2 separate regions of the Homo sapiens genome follow, and region 2 is linked to region 1. The links come from fine-mapping of genetic effects on gene expression. Tissue or cell type: thyroid. Region 1 holds a variant in brackets; the other region holds the start of a gene. All regions are shown on one strand. Distances are from middle to middle.

Region 1 (8,178 bases):
CACAGGGCACTGTCCATCTGAACCCTTATTCCATGACTGCCTGGGAGCCCAAGAGGCCACACTGTGGCCACAGGCCTGGTCCTTTCTCTCTCTACACGTCGACGCCCTAGGTCTGGGCCAGCAGGGGCATTTCCAGGACAGAAGAGAGACGTTCTCTGCAGCACTGAAGACCCAGTGCCCCCACTCTCCAGCTGTGGGCTTGGGGCCAGCTCCACCCTTTGTGGGGCTCAGCTTCCCTGCTTTTAACAGGAGGTGACAGCAGTACTGCCCTGGGTGGGTGTTTGTACAATGAATGGGGTGATCCATATAACCTTCAGGAAGGAGCTGGGACAGGCCAGCCCTGAACCTGCCGGCCGCATCAACTGTCACGGTGCTCCGTCACTCACGCAAGATGCAGCGTGGCTTTCAGGATGCTGAAAAATAACCCATATTTAGACTCCACCCAGAGAGGCAGGGAGCTGCGGAACTGAGCGCCCATGGGCTGTGCACATCCATCTGGCGTCTGCCATGGACAAGCAACGCTGCAGGCTCGGGACAAGGGACCTGCCTCTGTCCTCCTCAGAAGAGCCCCGGAATCCCCAGATGGGCCATAATAGGAACGCAGCAGTCGTAAGACCTCGCTGCTCCCCCACCCACCCTGCCCTCAGGAGTGTTTGTGGGGCTGAGTTTCGGAGGTGGAAGTGGACGGGAGCAGCTCAAGGTCCTCTGGCATCAGGCAGACCCCATGCACCCTTCCCTGAAACGTCACGAATGTCCCTGCTAATGGCCGCAATCAGGGCCCGCGCCAGCACCACATGCTGGGCCCCCTCAGCTCTCGGCTTCCTGGAGAGAATTTCCTCAAAGATTTTTCAAAGATATTTCTTCTTGTAGACGCTGATTATTCTCAGATGCTGATTAACATATGTAAGATGAGGCAAGCGGCATTATTAGCAGGGTGTAGTGGACACTTTAAACACCATCAAGAACCTGGAAGGCATCACTCAGGTTCAAGAGCGGCAGCGTCCCCCATCCTTCCCTCTCTGCTCCCAGCTCAGGCCTGCTGGTTCACTGGCTTTGTTCATCATCGGGTCTCCCTGAAAACCTGCTTCAACCAGGCATTTGGAGGCATCAGGACCCACTGACATTCACAGAGCGCCTTTACATACTCAGGGCACAGGTCTGTGCTGGAGATGCAGGCATGGATGTCACTGTCCCCATCACGGTGGTGCTGCAGGAGAGACACGTGCCTCAGGGATGAGGCGTACTGTGGGAATGCACGAAACCCAAAGTGACATCTATGTCCGTATCCATAGATCTGTAGTTTTCTTGTGATGTCTGATACTTTGGTATTAGGGCAATACCAACCTCATAGAGTGAGTTAAGAAGTGGCCCCTATTCTTCTATTTTTTGGAAGAGCTTTAGAAGATCCAGTGTTAATTTTTCTTTAAGCGTTTGGACCAATTCACCAGTGAAGCCATCTGGTCCTGGGCTTTTCTTGTTGGGAAGTTTTGATAACTCATTCCTTGTTTTTACTTAACATAGGTCTATTCAAACTGTTTGTTTCCTCTAGAGTTAGTTCTGGAAGTTTGTGTCTTTCTAGGAATGCGTTTATTTCATCTAAACTATCTACTGTATTGGCATACAATTGTTCATAGTATCCCTTTAACCTTTTTATTTCATATGGTGGGTACTAATGTCCCCTTTTATTTATGATGTGGTAATTTCAGCCTTCCTTCACTTTCCTTCTTCTCTATCCCTCTCTACTCCCTCATATCAGCCTAGCTAGAGATTTGTCAATTTCATTTATCTTTGAAAGAACTAACCTGCTGGGTGGGCAGTGGCTCACACCTGTAATCCCAGAACTTTGGGAGGCCAAGGCAGGCAGATCACTTGAGGCCATGAGTTTGAGACCAGACTCACCAACACAGTGAAACCCCATCTCTACTATAAATAGAAGAAAAAAAATAGCTGGGCATGGCAGTGCAAGCCTGTAATCCCAGCTATTTGGGAGGCTGAGGCAAGAGAACTGCTTGAACCCGGGAGGGCAGAGGTTGCAGAGAGCTGAGATCACACCACTGCACTCTAGCCTGGGCAACAGAGTGAGACTCCATCTTCAAAAAAAAAAAAAAAAAAAAAAAAAAGAGACTCCATCTCAAAAGAAAAAAAAATGAGACTCCATCTCAAAAAAAAAAAAAAAAAGAACTTTTGGTAATTTTCATTATTTTTCTATATTCTACTTTATTCCCATTTTGATCTTTATTATTGTCTTTCTTCCACTTGATGTAGATATTGTTTACTCTTCTTTTTTTAGTGTGTTCACGTGGATATTTTTGGTTTCAGTATAATTTATCTACAGGTCAGTTTATATAATTTCATTGTTTCTTTTTTTTTTGAGATGGAGTCTCGCTCTGTCACCAGGCTGGAGTTCAGTGACGCGATCTCGGCTCACTGCAACCTCCGCCTCCCGGGTTCAAGCAATTCTCCTGCCTCAGCCTCCCAAGTAGCTAAGACTACAGGCACCTGCCACCACAGCCAGCTCATTTTTTGTATTTTTTAGTAGAGACGGGGCTTCACCATGTTGGCCAGGATGGTAATTTCGTTTTTAATAATGGGAGTATTACAAGTCAATTCACACATTTCCTGAAAATTTAACCCATGGTTCTCGCAATCTGGTGCAAGCCAGTTCCAGTATACCACAAGGGTGGTTCTAGCAGACTCTAGAGAGCAAGCAACACCCTGAAAAAGAATCAGCGTCGGCCGGGCGTGGTGGCTCACACCTGTAATTGCAGCTCTTTGGGAGACCGAGGCAGATGGATCAGGAGGTCAGGAGTTCAACACCAGCCTGGCCAACATGATGAAACCCCATCTCTACTAAAAATACAAAAAAAAAATTAGCCGGGTGTAGTGGCAGGCGCCTGTAATCCCTGCTACTCGGGAGGCTGAGGCAGAGAATTGCTTGAACCTGGGAGGCGGAGGTTGCAGTGAGCTGAGATCGCGCCACTGCACTCCAGCCTGGGTAACAGAGCGAGACTCTGTCTCAAAAAAAAAAAAAAAAAAAAAAAAAAAGAATCAGTGTTTGGCTTCAGGAAGCCAGGCAGGACCGTGCCTTCAACCACACTGTCCCTCCTCTGCTTCTCTGCCCACAGCTCAGAGCGCTCAGGGGACCTGCTTGAGGCCACAGCTGCGTTAAGAACATTCACGTATTTCTAAATTGCCGTGGTCTAAAAGTGTTCCCTAAATTCACGTGTTGGAAACTTAACCCCCAATGCAGCAGTGTTGGGAGATGGGCACTTTGACCGATGTTCAGGTCATGAAAGCTCCACCATCCTGGAGAGATAATGCTGTAAAAGGACTTGACTGCGGGAGCCTGGCCCCCTTCTGCCCTTCCACCTTCCACCACGTGAGGATGGAGCGTTCTGCCTCTCTGGAGAATGCAGCCCTCACCACACAACTGAACACGCTAGTGCCTTGATTTTGGACTTCCCAGCCCCCAGAACAGTGTAAAATAAATTTCTTTTCTTTACAAATTACCCAGTCTCAACATCACAAAGTGGACCAAGACAGAAATATCCAAGTACTTAAGGACTTACATTCACTTTTCTAATGACTGAAGCACACAAAAGCTTTTCCCGCAGAAGAGTGAGGGCTGCTGTCCACTCTGCATCCTGCCAGCCCCTTCAGACACGGTTTGCTCCAGGAGCAGCCAGGGGGTC[T/C]GGGCAGGGCTGGATGTGGAGTGGACCCCCACTCATGCCTGCTGCTGAAGGACCCTGGGGCATCCTGGATGACAACCATGCCCAGTACACAATGACAGATGGGTGTGGCCTCCCCTTTAAACACAGTGCCCATTTCCTCCAGGAAGCCTTCCTGGATTGCCACACTGATGCATCCAGCTACTACCAGATCCACCACACGCTGCCTGACTCAGCTCTGGGCCCGCAGACCCCATAGGCCTAGGCTGCCCCACCACGGCCCCTCCTCCCAGCCCTCAGTGCTCCTGAAATGACTGTGGGGATAAGGAGGTTGCTCCCTGCTTGCCCCTGCTCTCCCCACATCTGTCCCAGCTTCCATCAGGGGCCTTCTGCCTGGGAGGCTGCAGAGTGGGTGCTGGATCAAGGTCAAATTCACACAGGAGCTCCTCCCAGCCCTCCCCTTCCTTTTCCTCCACGCCAGACAGTTATTAGTCATTTGAGTCATTCGGCTCAAAAATGACAGAATTCGAAAAAAAATTAAAACCCCACCCAAGTTTGTTGGGAGTGATTCGGATGGGAAAGTCAGTGCCGGGAGGCCTGCACTTGGCAGAGGGGCCCAACAGGACGAGGGATGGGACGTGCCTGGGCAGCACAGCCTGGGGTCCCATTGCCCAGGACCCTGCAGCTCTCTGTCCCCGAATCACACGGAGTGGGGGCCTTGTGGAGCAGGCATAAGCTGTCCCCATCCTCATGGGAAGGAGTGACGGTGGGTTCAAGGCAGGAGCACGAGTGGAGCAGGCGTGCTCCTTCCAAACCCTGTAGGCCCGTGGACGATGCATCCCACGTGCAGTGGGCCTTCCACGGGCAGGCTTCAAGAGTTCGAGGGGGCCAGGACACCAGCGCCCCAGCCCCAGGGGAGGGTGGTGGTCTGCCCAGGGTCAGGCCCAGCCCAGGTGTCTGGCCTCCTCCTCCTCCTCCTCTTGGCTCTCCTGGTTGGCAGCACAGGGGCCCTGTGTCCACAGCCCTGGGAAAGAGCCTCCCTTATGAAAGGGAGGGAGCAGAGCCAGGTGACCGCCCTCTTCCCTCCAGAGCCGCGGCGCCAACGTGACGGGACAGGACCCTCCCTGCAGAGCCACCGTGCCGACGTGACGGGACATGGAGAGGCTAGAGCAAGGAGACCACCCCCTTCCCTCCAGAGCCGCCGTGCCTACGTGACGGGACACGGAGAGGCTCGGGCACCCATGTTTGCTCAGCCACCTCCCAGTGTGCTCCCAACCTGAGACTCCCCACAGCACCTCAAAAATCAGCAACTTATCTACCAACCCCAGCTGCCATCTGGTGACGCTCACGTAGTGCCCGTGAATGCTGGGGTCTCCTCTCCTTCACCCTGAGCTGTGCTCCCTGGAGCTGGGAGTGGGGGCGCTTCACAGAGGGGGACATTCAAGGAACTTCATGTTCTCAGCAGCAGAACACCCTGGCTCCAACCGTCTCATCTCTCTACAGAGGCGTCAGAGAGCCATGCAGCTACTGTGTGGTTTTCCAACAATTAAACGCACCGAGATCTGGAAGGAACTGCTGGGTAACTTGCTGGAGAAGGACTGGCTTGCTCCCTTCTGGTAAAACTGGGCTCTGATGAAGCAAAGTGCTTGGCCTTTAGCACAGTTGCCATTGTACCCTCACGCCACAGCCATGGGTCGGGCCGGGCAGTCAGCTCCTCCCTGAAACAACTTCACCACAGTGGCCCTGGCCAGGGCACTGTGAGTTGTGGCTCCAACAGCAGACACACCTGCCCTGCCCTGCCCACCTGCTGGGCCTGAAGTGGCTGCATCCTCTGGACTGAAGCAATTCACATCCACGTCCTAGGGAACCGGGGGCAGGGTCTCTTCCCACCATCTTCCTCACAAACCAATCATGCTCAGAACTGAGGGACATGGTGCCCGCATCCCAGGGCATCTCCAACCCCATCTGGATCCAGGCAGAATGGAACGGAGGGGTGTGCTGGGGAAGAAAGTGTCGCCAACAGCCCCCAGGCGCCTCTCCGCTTGCCAAGCGTTTATAACACGCCACCCTCTCCCAGCAGTGGTTCCATAACAAAAAGGCCGCGGGTGGCAGCAGTCTGCGCGGAGATGTATGTGTCCTGACAGCCCCACCACGGTCGCGTGATGCAGTGGCTGGCAATGCCTGCCAAGCAGAGGGCCACACCAGCACCCACAGCTTCTGTGCCACAAAGCACGGACCCCAAGCCATGAGGGGTCCAGGGTGGCCAGGACCCACAACCTGGCTGAGGATGTGGCTGTACACCCAGTCGCCCATGGCCTCGGGAAGCCTCCAGAAATGCTGGGATCTCCCTGAGCCCCCAGAAGGAAGCCGACATGTCCATGCCCCTAAGCAGTGGAGAGGGTGCCTCCTGAGGCAGGCAGGTACCCAGCTGGTCTCCGTCGCGTACTGGAAGGTACCTGGAACATGAGTCCTTTTCTCAGGAAGGTTGTTAGGGGAGCGGGTGCCCAGTAAACAGCCCAGAGCAAAGCCGGTGCTCCACGTGGGGGTCTGGGCCCCTCTGAAAAACAGCTTCATTATCCTTCCTCAGATCAGGGCCTCGATGATTTGGTGAGGGCCCAGACCCCCTCCTGGATGGCGCTGGGTGGCCAGTGCGGGGTGCCAGGCTGCCAAGGGTGGTCAGGGCTCAACGCAGGAAGGGCTGCCCATGAACAGCCAACTGCCAGCAGGCGGTCTCCTGTGAGCTCTGTGGTCAAACAGATGTCCCCATGTTGTATGAACAACTGTAGGGAAGCAGGGCCTTCCTTATCCCAACCACCACTTGCCGAAGGGATGAACGGGGCAGGCAGGGCCAGCCACAGCCTCTCCAGCTGCCACCCTGGGGCCAACCCCTGGCCAGGCTGAGCACCAACTGGTAGATGCAGGCTGACTCGGCCACAGACACCGCATCTTAGGGACCTTGGCGCACTCCCAGTCTCTTGCGTACAATAGAGCAGGTGATTCACGTCGCTCCTGGTGGAAAATTCCCGTCACCCTAGTCCCAGCCACAACATGCCTTCAGCTGGCCCTGGGGGCCCCGTTGGCGCCTCGAGGTGGAGATGACGCGCTGTGCCCAGCCTCTCAGAACCGAAAGGCTTTTGCTCCTGCACTCCTGTAATTAAACCCCACATTGCTAGGGCATCATGAGCAGCTAGGCATGATGACGGTCAACAACGGGGAAAGGCAAGAGAAGAAGTGACTTCCCTCCTACCCTGGCTCCTGCAGTCACTGCCAGGACCCACAGCCCAGGGTCCAATGGCCCTGCCATCAGTGTGGTCCCCATCCCCACAGCAAGGACAGGACCATCTCCAGACTCCTGTACGTGGCCAGGGCACCCTCCACCCTCCCGCACCGACCTGCTGCTGGAGGATGAGGACAGGGCTGTGGACGTGGGGTGGAAGGTGACGCTGACCACAGATCCCCCTCGTGGTGCCCCTTCTTCTTCACACCTGGACTCTAAACCACACGTGAAGCACAGATGCCAAACCCACGGCCTCAGCGTCCACCCGCCTAAGGCTGCGCGTCTACTGCCAACCATCCACACTGCCTGAGAGCGGGCAAGGCCTCTGCTGTCCCACGCCTGCCTCAAACTCCCAACCACAGAGAAGCAAAGACTCTGGCCACCATACCTCTGCCCAGAACCCGGCAGTGCCCACCTGCCTGTTTTCTGCCTCTTTTCCCAGCCCAGGACCCAGGTGGCTCGCAAGGCCTCATGCCTGGAGAATATAAGGCTCCACCCAACACCCACCTCCAGGCCCTCTGGCCCTGCCCCTTCCTGGGCACAGCCTCCCCAGACCTGGCAGTCAGCCCGGCCTGTCCTGCACCTCCCAGTGGCCACTGCGGCCCTGACAATGGGTCTGCGCTGTGCCATGACTGCAGTTTACCATCCTCCAAAAGCTCCCAGGGAAAACTGCCCCCGCCCACGACCGAGACTTGAGGCTACCACCCTTCACCCCTCTGGCTCAGCTCTGGGGCAGTTCCGCTCACAAACCACCACCCTCTGCTGCCCCCGCTACTGGGCTGCAGTCTTTGATTTCCTGGGAAAGGAGTTTCAGGAGAACTCAACTTGTGGGAGACAGCACCTCTCTTCATAAAGGAAGACCTTGCTTCAGCGAGGCGGGCTGGCCAGGTACAGCCAGGTACTGCATGCCTGGCAAGGGCTGGGTGAGCGCTGGACTCGGACACAGGGTCTCAGTCCTCAGTGCCGTGCTGTGGTGGCTGCGGGACCCAGCACGTGTGTGCTGATGGAAAAGGGAACCTGGCGCGTCTGCATAAACAGCTAGAAAGGAGCAGAAGCAGGGCCTGGCCAGCCCGCCAGGGCATCACGCACCTGGGTGCCTGCCTCAGAGGGCAGCCCTGGGGGAGGGGAGGCTCGGTGGCTGATACTGTGTGTAAGGATGGAAAGCGCCACAGTGCGTGGCTGGTTTGTGTTTGAATCTTTCACTGATGGTTCCGTAAGTTGGATCTCGCATGC
Region 2 (8,178 bases), 160 kb after region 1:
TGGAAGGTGGGAGGGGACAGTGGGGCACCGCCAGGATCACCAGGAGTAAATGCGGCTCTCCAGGGCACTGTCTAGAGCCGCTGGGAAGTCCCTTCCCCCAGGGGTCCCTTCGGAAGTCCCTTCCCCCAGGGGTCCCTGCGTGGGAAAATCCTGTGAGGGGACAAACCTGCCTCTTCCTCACTGAGCCTAGGGCATGGATGTCGGCTAAAAGAAATCCCAGAGACAGATAATTTATATTTATGGAGCTGAAAAAAAACAAACATCCCATCTTCTTGTGCCCCAAATTCATCAAATAAAAACACAGTGAGAATTTTTTCAAAAAAAGATGAGAAATAAACTTCTGAACGGCACCACTTCATTAAGCCTCCACTGTTTTCCATTTTACCTCTTCGAGAACTCCAGAACAAAATTTGAACAGCAGGAAAGTAACATATTCTAATCGCTCCTAAATATGCAATAAATTGTATTTATAAAGGAAATGCAACACTACAGTGCCTACGCTCAGTTAGGATTCTAATGGATTCAAAACAATTCCAAAGTTGTTTGTAATTTCTTCTCATAGTTATAGATGAGGACATGAGATTTAACTGGAAGGTACAGCTCAATATTGACGGGATTTATTTGGAAATTTCCATGTCCAGCACATAGTGAACCTGTCTGTCTTCCTCACTCTCCCTGGTACGCTGAAATATAGTCTGGGTCCCCACCATCCACCTGCTCGTGCTGAATAGGGCACATGGAATCTAGGCTAGTGCAGAGTGTCCTTCACCTTTGATTTCAACGCTGCACACAAGGACCGAGTCAGTGCTTAGGTGTCATAGGGAGTTGCCCCAGGTCCTCATTTGCTTCTCTCCCTTGCTGCTGTTCTATCCTAGATGCCAGGGTGGAAAGATCACATCTTCAGCGGCGGGCACAGAACACCCTCAACCAGCTCTAGCTGGGTCAAGAGGTCCCATTCCACATCTAGGCAAGAACCACATCTAGGCAGACAGACTTCTCTACTCCAAATACGCTAAGGGGAAAACAACCTATATCAACTCTTTTTAAGCCACACCCAGAGAGGTTTCCTCAGACCAGAATGGAGAAGAGCTTCAACTTCCCCATCAAAGCTCATCATCATGCAAGTCAACTTATTACCAACCATCCAACAACCCTCATGGGCAGCACCGGCCGCGGAGGAAACCAAGCCTGCTGTCACCGTGATGGTCGCAGACCACCGAGCATGCATTTTAAAGTGAGCCATCCAGGGCCCCTTTCCCCTGTTTGCGTCTCCTGGCACTTCTTCCCCAGGAGGAGAAAATGACAAGGCTGTGTCACTATAGCAACTAGCCTAATTGGTGGACTGCAGGTCTTTCTCCGGCCAGACGGTGGAGCCCATCTCCTTCTATATGGATCCCAGCACACGAGAAAGAAAGAAGGCCGGACTCTCACTGGGCCAAGAACAGTAGAATCCCCCCAACAGAAAACCAGGCCAAGAAAGAATCCAGTTTCCTCCTAGCTGCACTAGGAAGCCAGCACCTTATGTGTTGCAGAGAAACACACAGATTTAATAGGCAGGATAATTGAACGCTGTATGATACTTATCAGTTTCCCTAATTAATATGATACAAATATATCTGCTTCATAACACAAAGACATTTTGAGTAATAAAAATCCTTACTGATGACAAAAACAATTTACAAACGAGAATACGAACTATTCTTCTTCATCCCAGATCTATTGGAAGAAAGAATGAAAATCCTAGGAACTGTTTAATTTGCATTTAATTTGCTTTATCGGTTCTGAAAAAAGGGGGGGGGATTTTTTTTCTCTAGGACTGCAGTTCCAAGCTATAAATTATTATTATGTCTATTTTGTATTTTAGTGAAATGTTTTAATTTCTCCAAGTACATTTCTGGTGTAATGGGGTGTGTCTCTTATTGTCAATTATTCCATTACATGGAGATGGAAACAGCCATAAAAAATGTGCTTCACCCAAGCTTCTGTTATTAATTATTTCTGCTACTCTGGTAAGACCTTCTTACCAATTGTCCTTGTCCTGGCGAAAGGCTGTTTCCAGAACGCTGGGGAGGCCTCCTAAGGAGGAGGGATGAGTGTGGAAACCAGATCTCCCATCCTCAGCGTGTCTAAGCAGCAGGCTCAGATGTCTGTGCTGGGACACCAGGACTCCACTCGGCAGAGCAGGCGACAGTCTCAGGAAGGTGTGAGCCCGTCCGGATGAACAACGTGCTGACACCTTAGGATTCAGGATGCAGCGCAGGGTGGGAGAGGGCTGACGCTGCGTGTCTTGAGACAGTGTGTACCGCGCTCCTCGCGGGCTCGGGAAGTGCGGTGTTGAAGCCACAGGGCCCTGGTGTCAAGTACTTCGCAACAATTAGCAGTTGTTCTTTTCCACACCTGCTGAGCTGCTGGGGGTTGGGGGTGAGGTGTTGTCCTGGGTTCTAGCAGCCAGCCAGGGATGGGCCGCCTGTAGTGGGCTCAGGGCACTACAGCCCCTCCCCAAACACTGCTGAATGAGCCCCCTCTCCCTCTCCTCTCCTCTCTCTCCTCTCCTCTGGGGTGATGCCACCAGGAAGTGCATTCAAATGCCTCCTCTTCCGCACAGAGTTTACCTGCCATTAACCCTTTCTACATCTCCTAGGAAGCCTTGCTTGGGGATCTTCTAGGGAATCCCCCCACATACCCCTGCAGGCCCCGTGACGGCCGCGGAAAACTCGGGGGCAGGCACAAATGTCGCTCAAACCCCCAGACCCTGCTCCCTGCAGGCGGCCAGCCAGTGAGTTCCCAGGGGCGCCGGCGCACCCACGGTGGCCTCGTCTGCCTGGGCAGCTCGGGTTGAGACCCCCAGGCTTGGCGACCCCTCCCCGCTCGGTGCCACAGCATTTCTAGGGAAATGCATAACCGCGCTGAAGCAAGTAGGAAAATTCCTGCTCTGGTCCCCGGGTTTCCCTTGCGATCCTGGCGAGCTGGGCTGTCCCAGGACTCCGGAGGCCGATCCCGCGGCTGCCCGGGTCTCCCTGGGCCACTGTGCTCTCATTTTGGCGACAGCGGAAGGATCAGATCGGACTGGGAGCTTGGAGGCCCGGGGCTCTGGAGGAGGTGGTGTCTGTGGAGGGAGGTTCGGTGCTGGCCTTTTTTTTTTTTTTTTGTAAAGAATCCATATTTTTCCATCACCTCCCGCGCCCATGGCAATTCTCCATGACAGGTGCTCCCCAGCACCCGTCCTATTCTCCCGCTGAAGACAAGAAGCCCGGAGCTCCCGGAGCTGAAGCCGACCAGCCCGCGCCATCTGGGGCCAGAGCCTGTGCCCGGGACGCTGAGCGGCCCCCACTTACCCCACCAGCCGCGAACGTGCCCCGGGATGCTGAGCACCCTCCCCAGCGCCGAGGCTGGAGTCTGCACCCGGGACTCCAACCACCCCTCATTCCACCCGCCTGGAGCCTCGGCAGGGGCACAGGCCACCCCCCACCCTTCACTCCAGGCAACAGGGAGCCCGCGGCGGTCACCCCCTACCCCAGCCCTCAGCTCACGCCCGGGCGCCCACTGGCCCGCACCACCCCAGCCCGCGCCCGCGCCAGTCCCGCCGGTCACCAGCTCGGGCCCCAGACACGACCCGAGAAACGTCCGCGGCCGCGGCGAGCCCCCTCCGGGCATCCCATCCCTCACTTCGCTTCTCTTTCCAGAAGGCGCCTGACGAGCCCGTTTCCCGGGAAAGCGGAAGCTCCAGCTGCTCCTCCGAGCCCAGGCTGGGCTCCTGCCTGAAGAGCTCCTCTCCGGGCTCGGCCGCCGCCTCCCCCCTTGTCCCGGGCTGAGGCACGGGGAGGGCGCTCCGCAGACACCCCGGCAGCGCCGCCCGCCCTCCGCGACCTGCGGCTGCCTCCTGAGCGCGCATCTCGGCCGGGAAGCCGCTGGCTGGGCTCCGACCGCCGGGCAGGGACGGGCCGCGCCACCCGGGGCCTGGAGCCCGGGCCCTGCCGGGGAGTCAGGGAAGGGAGGCTCGGGCCGGGGCGTCCGACCCCGAAGTGCTCGAGCGCCCGGAACCCGGGTGGACCCTCTCGCCCGCCCAGCGCAGCGTTGGACCGGCCGGGACTCGGGGGACCATGCGCCCGGCGCTCGTAACTCCGCGCCGACTCCGGGAGGCCCGCGGGGCGCCTGCCGGGGCCGGAGGAGGGGGTCCGGGGCCCAGAGGGCCGTGCCGGGGCCGGGGCCGCGCGGTACTCACTGCAGTAGGCGATGAGCAGGCTGGCCAGGATCATGAACGCCCAGAAAGTTGAGGACATGCTGGGCAGGGCGGTCGCATCTTGCCGGCTGCCGGTCCTGGGCGATGGCGCCATTGAAGCCGCGGCGCCCGCGCGGGGGGCAGCAGCGCGTCTCAGCAGCCGGCCCTGCCCGCGCCCCCGCGCCGGCCTCCACGTGCGGGCCCCGCGCGCGCCATCCTCCGCCGCCGCCGCCGCCGCGCCCGGGCCCCGGCCCACCGCGCCCCGCGCCGCGCCCGCGCCGCCCGCGCTCGCGCCCGCGCCCGCCGACCCCGCGCCGGCCCGCCAGGGGGACGCCGGCCCCGCTCTGGGCGTCACTGCGCGCCCCGGCTACGCGCGCCCCGGCATCCGCGAGAGAGGCGCGCGCCCGCCACCGCTGGGGGCTCCAGCCGCCCGCCGACCCGGGCCTGGCAGAGGGGACGCGGCGCCCAAGCCGCTCCTCCGGATGGCGACAGAGACGGCCTGACGCGCCCGCAGCCTGGGCCCCCCACGGGGAGGACGGCCGGGCCAGGTGAAGTTCGCGCACTTGGGCCTTCCGCGCCCCCATCCACCGCAGCCAGGGCCTGGAAGGCTGGGGAGGGGGCGGGGGCGGCAGACGCCTCCTAAGGTGGGTTCTGGGACTTGGATCCGGAGTTTATTCCAAGGAGAGGGTGCTCTGGGCCTGTTCCCTAGGTGTGCCCTGTTACCCAAAATCGGGCTTGTGCAGTGGGGTCCCTGAGTCCACTGGGAGCACAGCCTCAGACCCCAGCAGAGTCACCCTTCATCGGAAGCCCACCACCCTGAGGGCTCCTCCTCCACCTGGGGCGGCACTGCCAGGCACAGGCACGCACTTTCCCTCAGTCCTCTGCCCCACGATCACTCTACTCGGGCACCTCTGCCACTGCCTGGTCCTTGCTGAGCCATCTCCTGGTTCATCTCCCTGGAGTCCCTGCAGGACCGGCTCTCAGTGGCGTCTCCGGGCTCCCAGTCCCAGGACTGGTCCTATCCAGGTGGGTTTTCTGAGCAGGATGACAATGATCGCAATCTATTTTACCTGCATAGTCAACGATCATCTGCAAGACAGGTTCACTCCTATAACAAGCAAAGGATGGGGGGAAAATGAGCCTTGTAAGGACACAAGGACACTTTCCCCATCTCCAACCCTCCTAGTCATGTCCCCTCTGCACCTCCCTCTACAGCCCAGGAGATACGCTCCCCAGTCCAGGATGTCCAGATGGCCCTGCTGCCTGGAGAGGCTCTGGCCCCTGCCGGTAGCTGCCACAGCACCACCCCAAGCTCTGCCTTCCTGCAGGTTCGTGCACACGACTAATAGAACCCCTCCTCTGGAACTCACAAGATATTCTCCATCCTGCATAGGGCTGGGGGCTTGAGCACCCCAGGAGATTCTTTTGGCGCTGGAGACCCTTTTCTGAGGAGCCAGTAGAGGGCCTGCAAGTCAGATTGAGCAACCAGGGAGAAGAAGCATCATCCCTTCATCTTGAGGCCTGGTCCAGGGAGGTGAAGGGATGTGGACTGTCCCCAGCCGTACACTCACCCACAACTCATGCATGCAAGCATTCATGCCCCAATGCACACACAGCACCACACACACACATATTTTCCTTGAATCTCTCTCTCTCTCTCTCACACACACACACACACACACACACACACACACTCTCCCATCCACACACACACAACACTTTAGGAGAAACTGAGCAAAGAAAGGCAGCCTCTCACTGCGAGTCCTCTAACCCCCGTCCCAGTGGTTGTTGTGCACTGAAGCTTCCTTGCCAGGGGCTCTGACGGGATTCTTGTGTTAATATGATTGTGTCCATGCTTGTTTTCTCCCATCAATTTTGAATCCTGTTTAATTAAAACGCTGACTTTCCTGTTTAGTATCTTCTCAACTGCAGCTTCTCCCCGCTCTCTTTCCTGGCAGGGAGGTGATTCTGCAGAAGTTGGGGCTCCTGACAACTTTGGGGTGGCCATGAGGGACGTACCTCTTGCCTCTGGATGTGCAGGGTGGGCCTGGGACCCTGGCAGGGAGGGGCTCCCTCAATGGGATTCTGTGGAGTCAGCCATTGATGCCCAGGTCTCCACCCTTACAATTTCATTCCTTTCATTGAAGCCTTTTTTCCTGCTAAAAAGGATGTGGCTTTTAAAATGTTACAGATTCCAATTCATCCTGTCCATCCCGAACTCCTGTGCCAGACATTCCTTCATTCAACCTCTGTTTATTGAGCAACTACTTGGGCCAGGCACTGGGACTGGGGAAGCCAACAAGACATAGATTTTCTGTCCCCCTGGAAAGTGACAGTCAGTTTGAGAAACAGACAAGGAAACAAACAATTCCAGTGCAGTGTGGCAAGCGTCACGATGGGAGGGAGAGGAGAGCACTCTTGGAGCACAAGAGAGGAGCATTTACCCTAAAATCACACTCTAGAACACAGCAAGGTGTGTGCCAGGGAAGGCTTCCAGGAGACTGGTTTCCAGGCCCTTTTGGTCCATCCTTAGGACAAACACACACACACATGCACACATATATGCACATACATGAACACACACACGCACGTGAACACACAGGCACACACATCCACACACACGCACATACATGCACACACATGCTTTAACACACATGCACACACGCATGCACAAACATGCTTGGAGTGAAACTTTCCGAAGCAATATTTACCCCAAAAATACTCTGATGTTTTCTATTGTATCCTAATTCATTTTTGAAATGCTGGTTGCCCTCCCAATAATTTGGTTTATAGTAATTTTCTTTCTTTAAAAAATATGGTTTGAAGAGAGATGCAGTCTACCTTGACTTTGGGAGGGTATATTGGAGGCTTCTTGCCAAAGGACAGGGGCTGTGGTGACAATGGGGTGGCTGGGGAGGGCTCCCAAGCAGAGGAGAAGGGGTGCAGTGCGGTACCCGGCCTGCTGTATCCAGGAACTCAGACACTGAGGTTTTTGTGCTCGCAACATTAGGGCTATGGCGGGGAACCTTGGGCTATGGGAGAGCAGTGCCTGGTTCATTACATGCTGAATATTTCCAGAAAAAGGGAATGGAAGGGGAGCCCTTGGTGCTTATGACTTGGAGTCTAGAATGGTGGAGAGTCTGAAAATGGTGACGCTAGAAAAGGTGAATTCTCCACCCCAGGTTACAAGTAGACGGACCTGAGGAGTGGGGAGGCAGGGGGGAGGTGTGGGGTCCGAGATCAGATTGAAGAGATGGGGTCTCCCTGGGACAGCAACCTTGAGGTAATTACAAAGACACCACCCCCGGGCAGCCCGAAGGCAAGGGCAGGTGCCTGGTCCAGCCCCATCCCGGCCTTGTTTCCAGAGGCCTGGAGAGAGAGACCAAGATGGAAATTGAGGATGGGGGGTGAGCGCAGCCTGAATTCGGTTGCTAGGGAACAGAAAGCTCTGCTCTGGATCGCAACACACGCTACGGATTGACGATTTTGTTGTTGTTGTTGATGGGCTGGTTTTGATTACTAGCCAGAACTGACAGGAGTTTAGATTTTGAAACCTAAATAAGTCTATTAAGGAATCACACCATCACCTTAACTCCTACCCAAAAACGCAGGGGATGGCAATGGTGTAACCCTTGAGGGAGTCCTCGGCTCTCACCCCACACCAAGCCACCAGTCCTGGGACTGCTTCAGAGGCCTGACCCATAGAAGGGGCATCCTGCATGGCGGGGCACCCAGGGTGTCGGAGGAGGGCAATAGAAAAAGGGGCGTTACCCAGAGAGGAGGGGCGGCTGACCAGGGTGCGGACCCAGGCACGTACTGCAGTCAGGTGGCAGCCTCGCTGTCCTCCTGGGGATGTGAGCCCACTGCTCGCTGTGTTCTGCTGTGGTCGGCGGGGGTGGGTTGTTCTCTCTCCACTCCTCCCTGCGGTGAGGGTGTTTTCTATTTGCCATTAGGTTGCG

What was found. PIP is the estimated chance that this variant, and not a neighbour inherited with it, causes the effect.
Region 2: it holds the start of TAFA5, and the variant in region 1 is fine-mapped to the expression of TAFA5 in thyroid (GTEx, PIP 0.98).

Annotation. Positions count from the first base shown.
Region 1 is chr22:48,650,698-48,658,875 of GRCh38, reverse strand. The region is part of intron 2 of TAFA5 (TAFA chemokine like family member 5); the gene reads right to left. Among named protein-coding and RNA genes, the nearest start is that of MIR4535, 130 kb to the left of the region's middle. The variant T/C (reference allele first, on the strand shown) is at 3,693.
Region 2 is chr22:48,485,749-48,493,926 of GRCh38, reverse strand. It overlaps TAFA5 (TAFA chemokine like family member 5), which reads right to left and starts at 4,374. Exons shown (of 4, transcript NM_001082967.3): 1 at 4,223-4,374. The coding sequence starts at 4,334. RefSeq lists an enhancer at 1,791-2,296.